Regions from separate parts of the Homo sapiens genome. Here region 1 is linked to region 2. The links come from fine-mapping of genetic effects on gene expression. A gene starts in region 2. The other region holds a variant in brackets. All regions are shown on one strand. Distances are from middle to middle. Region 1 overlaps MTMR9 (myotubularin related protein 9). Region 2 holds the start of MTMR9 (myotubularin related protein 9).

Region 1 (4,000 bases), 31 kb after region 2:
GATCTTCTATCCAGACCACTCGAACTTTGTCCATGTGAGCAGTAAGGCTGTGTCACTGTATCATTTATGTGTTCGCTGGAGAAGCACTTTTAATTTCCATCAGGAACTTCTCCTTTGCATTCACAACTTGATTAACTAGTGCAGGAGGCCCAGCTTTTGGCCTGACTCAGCTTTCGACGTGCCTTCCTCACTAAGCTTAATCATTTCTAGCTTTTGATCTAAAATGAGACATGCTACTCTTCCTTTCATTTGAACACTTACAGGCCATTGTAGGGTTATTAGTTGGCTGGCCTAATGTCAATATTGTTGTGATCCCTGGAATAGAGAGTCTCCCTGAAGAGAGAGTCAAAGGAACAGCTGGTTAGTGGAGCAGTGAGAACACACACAGCATTTGTTGATTAAGTTCACTGTCTTATATGGACGTGGTTCCTGATGCCCCCAAAACTTGTAGAAGTAACATCAAAGATCACTGATCACAGATCACCATAGCAGTTGTAATAATAATGAAAAATTTTGAAATATTGTGAGCATTACTAAAATGAGACAGAGACACAAAGTAAAACATGCTGTTGGAAAATGGGTGCCAGCATACTTAATTGACGTGGGATAGCTGCAAATCTCCCATTTGTGGAAAATGCAGTATCTGTGAAGAGCAACCAAGGGAAGATCCATGAACGAGCTATGCCTGCAACTGTTATTATCCTAGTTCTGAAGATGACTTACAAACATGGAAGGATACGAGTGTAGAATAAGAGTGAGAATAGAGGAAATTGCCTCGTATTAAAGCTCTATGTAGTGTATATGTACATGGGTAAAAACTGACAGTAGTAACCAAACCCGAAGCTTTTGTGTGAAGTTGGTGGTTTTTATTTTTTCCAAAGTTTCCTTCATTGTTTCAACAGAAAGGGTAGAAGAAGGGGAGGGGAGAAGATGTAGTAAATTTAGTTTTGGTGTTTTCTTTCATTCTCTTTAGAATAATGGGGTCCCAGACACTTCTGAGTCTCATGATGCAGTGGTATCTTTACAACTGACTTTCTAGATTGACACTTTTATGTTTGTTTTTTTTCCTGTTGTCGTGTTTCTCAAAGTGTGGTCTAGGTCTCATTTTCCAGATTGAATTACAGTTTATGAAGGTGTCCTTATAGTCAGCTGATGGTGGAAAGGTAGAGTCAAAGTCAGAAAAATAATTTTAGTGTATGTCTATAGTTTTGATGAGAAGAGGCTTTAACCAACGATTAAAGCAGAAAGGGTAAATGCCTTCTGTGTTAAGAGCTGCTTTTTGGTTTTGAAAAGGGAAAGAAAAATTCAGCTAAAAGGTTCTGTGAAATTTGTTATAACTTAAAGAGGTCTTGCCATGTGAAATTTGAGATTCATTATAGTCGTATTTTTTCCCAAGAGAATCTTATCTATCGTATGCCTTAGATTTAGATTTAGATTCTGAACTCTACAAGTCAGAGCAGAATGTTGTACTCAATACACTAAATAAACTGAACTCAGTAGACTAAAATGTTGTGCTCAATAAACGCTTGTTATTAACAGAGTTCATTGACCATGTTGGACA[T/C]TTCCCATTTGTACTCTTCCCTGATTTTCCTATCAGGGAAGGAGCATCAATATTGATTCACGGAACAGAAGGAACTGATTCCACACTCCAGGTGACCTCCTTGGCCCAGATCATCTTAGAGCCAAGAAGCAGGACCATTCGTGGTTTTGAGGCCCTGATTGAAAGAGAGTGGCTGCAGGTGAGAAGAGCTGTTTGATTCACAGAGGAACTGCTTATTGATGCTGTGATCCTGCTTTGTGTGGTAGCTGACATAATGTGTGAAATTTCGATTGATTAAAATTTCTAAGTTGTGTGTTTAATTTACTGCAGGACAGTTAATCTGTCTTCTCCTTGTTTCTGGATGTCTCTTTGCCTGTATTCCTCACTTGACACTTCCTTCACTTAGGAAACTCCTGTTGGCTGTGCTTTATCACATACAGGAGAAATACAAAGAATGGGAAGCATAGTGCAATCTCCCAGAAGCTGGGTCTTGACGGATCAAAGACATAAGCAGTCGGGGAAGGGGGAGTGGGGCCTGTAGTTGCAAGGAAAGCGCTTTAACCCTTTCAAAGCCTTTTGCTCGTGCTGCTCCACCCTGTGAAGCTTCCTTCAAAGATAAAACTGAATCATGTAATGTTGGATGGCTGCCAAAATAAAAGTCTCACTCATAACAGGGATTGATATCCTCCACAGAGATTACTTTTCAATATATTTCTACTGTGTAAGCTGGTAAATAATTGTATTTGAACACAAATGCTTACATATCTTGAAAGCAGACATTTTTCTGGCAAAAAGAGTATCTTGCTCCTCTGGTTACAATTCGCATTTATCATGCACTAATGCTGTTACGTACACCATGTCCACCCTGCCTGACAACTGACCTTACCTCTGTTTAAGTCAGACCATACTAAGTTTATGCTCCATATTTGATGAAAGTCTATTGAGCTATATTCCTCATGATGCATAGTAGACAAACAAATGAGTATGACTGACTGATTTTTATGTTATTTTAATGGATATCACAATTCTGTGAACCACTGTAAAATTTCTATGTCATTACCTTTGTCACATACAGTAGTAGAAGGACCCAGAGACAAAGCAGATCTGTGAAATTCCTAGCAGAGTATGATTTGTATTAAGGTCAGCATTTGGGTTCTGAACAAGACAGTCAAATGAGTCTTAAATTTACTTTGGTCAGTAGATGGCAGACTCTTGCTGTTCATTTTGGGAGAAGAGGGTAATTAATGACAGCTTTATCTCCTGTAGAAAAGTACTCATAAAGATCTTTCAACACAATAACTTTTCGTATATAATTAGAGATTTACTATCAGAGCTGACATTATAAAGGTGATCAGAGTTCCATATCTGTCTCCACTTAGGGTGAGGCTTGTTTAGTGTACAGCACAATCTACAGTGTTAGACAGAGGTGATGATTCTTCTTTGTACTGAGAGCTTATGTTCTTTGACTTTGCTCCAGGTTTTGTAGACCTAGAAAGGTTTATTTTGTAAGTTTATTATTGCTTAAGTTCATTATTCTTCCATGGGATATTCCAAGGGCAGTGCAGTTCCTGTGGTCACACCTTAGCCGCGCAGCCTCATTAAGGATTTGGAAGTGTGTCTTTTTCCTTAGTTGCTGCCGCTATTTATTTTATACCAAGAAATCATTAATCTGTACAACAGCTACCCTAATTATATGATGTTCCAGGTACTAGGAGTGTCACTGTAATTGTGTATAGTGGTGTCGGTAGAATGCTCTGTCATGTGATCTCACCAGGATATGACTGTCACGCCTCCATCTTCCCCCTAGGCTGGTCACCCATTCCAGCAGCGCTGTGCACAGTCAGCCTACTGTAACACCAAGCAGAAGTGGGAGGCTCCTGTATTTCTTCTCTTCTTGGACTGCGTGTGGCAGATCCTTCGTCAGTTTCCCTGTTCTTTTGAGTTTAATGAGAATTTCCTCATCATGCTCTTTGAGCATGCTTATGCCTCACAGTTTGGAACATTTCTGGGCAACAATGAAAGTGAAAGGTGAGTACACTGCTCACATGGGGACCTTTCCTTTTCCGTTGTTTTGGCTACTTCCTAAGTAGCCAGAATCTCCTAGGAGACGACGATTTGGATCTATATTAAAATTATTTATAAAAAGGTAGAGGCTACAGTTAATTATAATTTAAATGACCTGAAGTATATTCTTTTATGAGAGCATGTCCTAGACTTTGTTCTGTTAGGTTAAAATTAGTCCATACGTGAATTAAGGGGCAACCATTTTAAATGTTAATTTCTTAACATAGGATCATAGTATCTTACATGTGGAAAAAGCCTTAATTTATAATTCAGGTCTTCCCTCTAATTTTATTAAGAAAGTAAGATCCAGAGAAGTTACGTGACTTTTCCCAGGACATAGAGTCAGTTGGTCATCAAAAGTGTGGCCTAGAGCAGCGATCCCCAACCATTTTGGCA
Region 2 (4,000 bases):
TTCCTACTAAAGTGGCCAAGCGAAAATGTCAACCCAGCTAGTGGGCCCACCTTCACAGTACTTAGACTGTGCATCCTTTAAAGTGCCCTTAACTAGGGATGGTTTCCATGAAAAGCATACAGGTTTTCTAAACGATGCAGTTTGGTTAATTGCATAGCTTACATGATTGTGTGAGGGTTAATTTCTGGGGTGTGGTTGCATTGAAGACTTCAAGTTCCCACGACCTGAACAGAATTTTGGCTTCTTTCAATACAAAGTGGCATCTGGAATTTTAGCTCTGTGTATGTTGATGTTGGGCCCCTAATGGGTTTCTGTGGGAATGCACCCTCAAAAAGGTTGCTCTGATTGGACTGGAGAGGGTTTACTGCTCATCCTGTCATTTTAACCTTTGTCATTTCCATACTTTTGAAGTCTTATAAGTCATCCAGATTCATTAATTCAAAGGGAGTTCCTCCCTGGTAGTTGGAATGATAGGTCATTTTTTTCAAGGACCCAAGATCGGGCTGGGATAGGGATGGCAGTGTATCTGGATGAAGATAGGAGATAAACAAAGCCAACAGTCCTTTGCCAGAGCTGAGCTGGTGGTATTTAACAGTCTTTGCATTAAATTTAAAGTTCTTAATAAATACCCAGAATCTATTAATTGCCAGAGGGGTAAAGTGAAGCTCTGTTGTAAAATAAAGCTGATTCCCTGTATGCGGTGTCCCTGTGTATACTGGGTGTATACTGGGTGTCCATTATGGAACAAAAAAAAAATACTTATTTGCTATTTTGTTCTATAGAATGGGAACTTCAGGGGGTGGATACCTGTGCTGTCAGGAATGCTAGTTATAAAAATGAATTAAAACACTTCATATATTACAAAGGAAGTGATTCCATCTATTTGGACGAAAGCAATTAAACTGCAAAAATATAAAAAATGGCAACTATTATTCAGTCTACAGTAACTATGCAACAAAGACACCAAGGAAAGTTGGTAGGCATTTACGTATCTCACTTAAAACAAGTCTATAAAGTGGTTTATTTTAAGAAGGGTACATTTTAAGAAGGACAAAATCAAAAGCATGGACAAGTGTTGGATGAGCTGATGAGGTTGTGGCAATTTACTTTGTGAATACTGTGAGAGTTTGTCCAACTCGCTGTGCTTAGGTACTAGATGGTGAGGATTTAAAAGGTCAATGAAGTCACAGCAGACCAGCACTCAAACATATTTCTCTTCTATTTCCTACTTTTGAATAAAAATGTCAGAAGTGGGCGGTGGGAAAGGAACAAGCAAAGGAGTAATTATTTGAATAAATTTTTGGCGAAACGTGGGTGTCTGACGGGGAGGCTGTGCGGTGGTGACCAACGCACCCATGCGCTGGGTTTCACAGATGCAGACTGAAGTCCAGGCTCTGCTGCAGATTAACGGGGTGGCCGCCAGCAAGTCAAGTGACTTGCTCTTCTGTGCACTGCATGTACTTGGGTTCCTCTCACAGGTATTCCTGTTTTTCCTCTTTCTTGCTCCAGGTTACACCTCGTGGCGCGGCGCTCTCGGAGAGCCTGTGGAGTGGCCCTGTGTCCCTCCCTGACCCCTGGAGGATTCCGTAAGGTCACAGTCACCGCCTCCATCCCCTACTTGCCATGTCTTCAGGGCTAATGCATAACAATTATCACAATTTACAGCAGCCCCACGCTCTGAAGAGCTTCTGGAGGGGATACTACTCAAGCGGAGGAAGGCAAGACAGGGACCTCCTCCCTCTTCCCGGACCTCTTCTGATAAGGAATATTTGTAGGTGGTTAAGAAAGGCAGCGGGAGGGCGTGAAGGCAAAGACAAGCTTTTTTTCTCGTAGGAACACACATCTTCTGGTCTGGCTGTGTTTCCGGAGGCATTTCCAGAGGACCTAGCGAGGACCAACTTCCGGCTGCGACTTCCGCGTCTTCCGAGTTTCGAGACCTGCTGCTTCCGCCCGGAGTTGTTGTGGGCTCCAGCAGCGAGTAGCCACTTCCGCTAGGAGTCCCTAGCGGCCAGGGCGTGGAAGCGGATTCTGAGGCGGCTTTCTCCTACTGCCCTCCGCTTGCCAACGCGGGACCCGGAGCCCAACGGCAGCGGCGGTCCTTGGGCCTGTGGAGAGGGGTTCTCTGTGGCCGAGTCCTAGGCCTGGTGAACCGCGCGGTGCGGGAGAGGCGCTTGGGCCTCGTCCAGCCCCAGCCCCTGTCTCCCCGCGGCCGGTGCCGGCGGCTGTAGGCCTCGCCGCGCCCACCCAGCCTGGGGCGGGCCCAGCCTCACCGCCCGGCCCGCCCCGCCCCACGGGCCAGCCCCGCGCCGGGTGTTTCCGCTACTTCCCTGCGGCGGGGTAACCGCCTCGCACCTACCGGGCTCGGTTCCCTGGCTCCGGCCGCGGGGGAGCATGGAGTTTGCGGAGCTGATTAAGACCCCGCGGGTGGACAATGTGGTGCTGCACCGGCCTTTCTACCCGGCTGTCGAGGGCACCCTGTGCCTGACGGGCCACCACTTGATCCTGTCCTCCCGGCAGGACAATACGGAGGAGCTGTGGCTCCTCCATTCAAACATCGACGCCATCGACAAGCGGTGAGTGCCCGCCCCACCCCAGCTCCGCAGGGAGCCGGGGGTCCCTTGTGGGCGCCCCGGGAAATACTTCCTGGCGTTTTCCGCGCAGCCTGCCGCCCAGCTAGCCGGCAAGATGAGCCCTCTGTGGCCTAGAATCAGGATTTACCAAGCTGAAACCCGTCCAGATGGAGGACCCGGTTTCCATTAAACCTGGATGGAGTTCTCAGGGTTATCGTGTGGCTGGTACCATCCTGATGATCATTTCTGGTTCGTAACACCATTTGGGTGGATTTTCGGCATTGTCTTTATAAATTTCTTCTTCTTCTTGCCCCATCGTATTCCTTGAATTGGTATTGTCAGTCACCGTTCATGAAGTGATTGGATGTGATTTAGGTAAAGTCTTTACCATTTCTGAGGAAAACTAAACAGATTATAAAGTTATGAGTGTCTACATGCTACAGAACCATTTTTTTAATTTCTGAAAAATGTTCAGTGTATCATATTATTTCTTACCTTCTGGGTCATCAAAATTTAATTCTCACTAAGGGAGATTCTGATGTCTTCTCTTCATCTTTACTCAATTCTGCTTGCTGAAAGAACAGGGTTGGCTCTCAAGGAAAGGCATGGACCAGTTAACCTCTTTTTTCTTTTTGTACTCCAGACTTTATCTTTCCAAGGCAGTGCCTCGAAGTCAAAAAGTTAAACTTTCATCTGCATTCAAAATTCCCATCTCCTTAGTGGCTACTCGCTAGCCAGGAGAGGGCAAACTGATTATCCGTTTTACACAGAAGTATAAATGAATGACGACAACATTTTCTATTGCCTCACAGGATAATTTGGATATTAGGAAGATTCGTACAGAGGATATGCCTTAAAATAATAATCTCTTTCTTTCTTTCTTTTTTTTTTTTTTTTTTTTTTGGAGACGAAATCTCACTGTATTGCCCAGGCTGGAGTGCGGTGGCCAATCTCGGCTCACTGTAACCTCCACCTCCCAGGTTCTAGCGATTCTTCTGTCTCAGCCTCCCGAGTAGCTGGGATTACAGGCACGCGCCACCACACCCGGCTAATTTTTGTATTTTTTAGTAGAGATGGGGTTTCACCATATTGACCAGGCTGGTCTTGAACTCCTGACCTCGCAATCCTCCCGCCTAGGCCTCCCACAGTTCTGGGATTACAGGCGTGAGCCACTGCGCCTGGCCTAAAATAAAAATTTCTAATGGTAGAATTGCAGGCAGTTTGGGTGAAGCCATGGTAGATTGATTGATTGATATGAGCAGGGGGCTCTTATTAGTCTCCTCAAGCCACCTTTTGCTGTATAAAGTCTTCAGTGGGCCCGGCACGGTGGCTCACGCCTGTAATCCCAGCACTTTGGGAGGCCAAGGTGAGCGGATCACCTGAGGTTAGGAGTTTGAGACCAGCCTGACCAACATGATGAAAGCCCGTCT

The links. PIP is the estimated chance that this variant, and not a neighbour inherited with it, causes the effect.
Region 1: its variant is the best candidate, but not a certain one, in a credible set for the expression of MTMR9 in lung (TOPMed, PIP 0.63).

The regions. Positions count from the first base shown.
Region 1 is chr8:11,313,326-11,317,325 of GRCh38, forward strand. MTMR9 (myotubularin related protein 9) reads left to right here. Exons shown (of 10, transcript NM_015458.4): 7 at 1,598-1,739; 8 at 3,348-3,568. It overlaps MTMR9-AS1 (MTMR9 antisense RNA 1), which reads right to left. Exons shown (of 2, transcript NR_189628.1): 2 at 2,534-4,000. Among named protein-coding and RNA genes, the nearest start is that of MTMR9-AS1, 10 kb to the right of the region's middle. The variant T/C (reference allele first, on the strand shown) is at 1,562.
Region 2 is chr8:11,282,498-11,286,497 of GRCh38, forward strand. It overlaps MTMR9 (myotubularin related protein 9), which reads left to right and starts at 2,319. Exons shown (of 10, transcript NM_015458.4): 1 at 2,319-2,573. The coding sequence starts at 2,392. LINC00529 (long intergenic non-protein coding RNA 529) reads right to left here and starts at 1,534. Exons shown (of 5, transcript NR_170283.1): 1 at 1,354-1,534. RefSeq lists enhancers at 1,288-1,377, 1,468-1,527, 1,803-2,304 and a silencer at 1,998-2,407.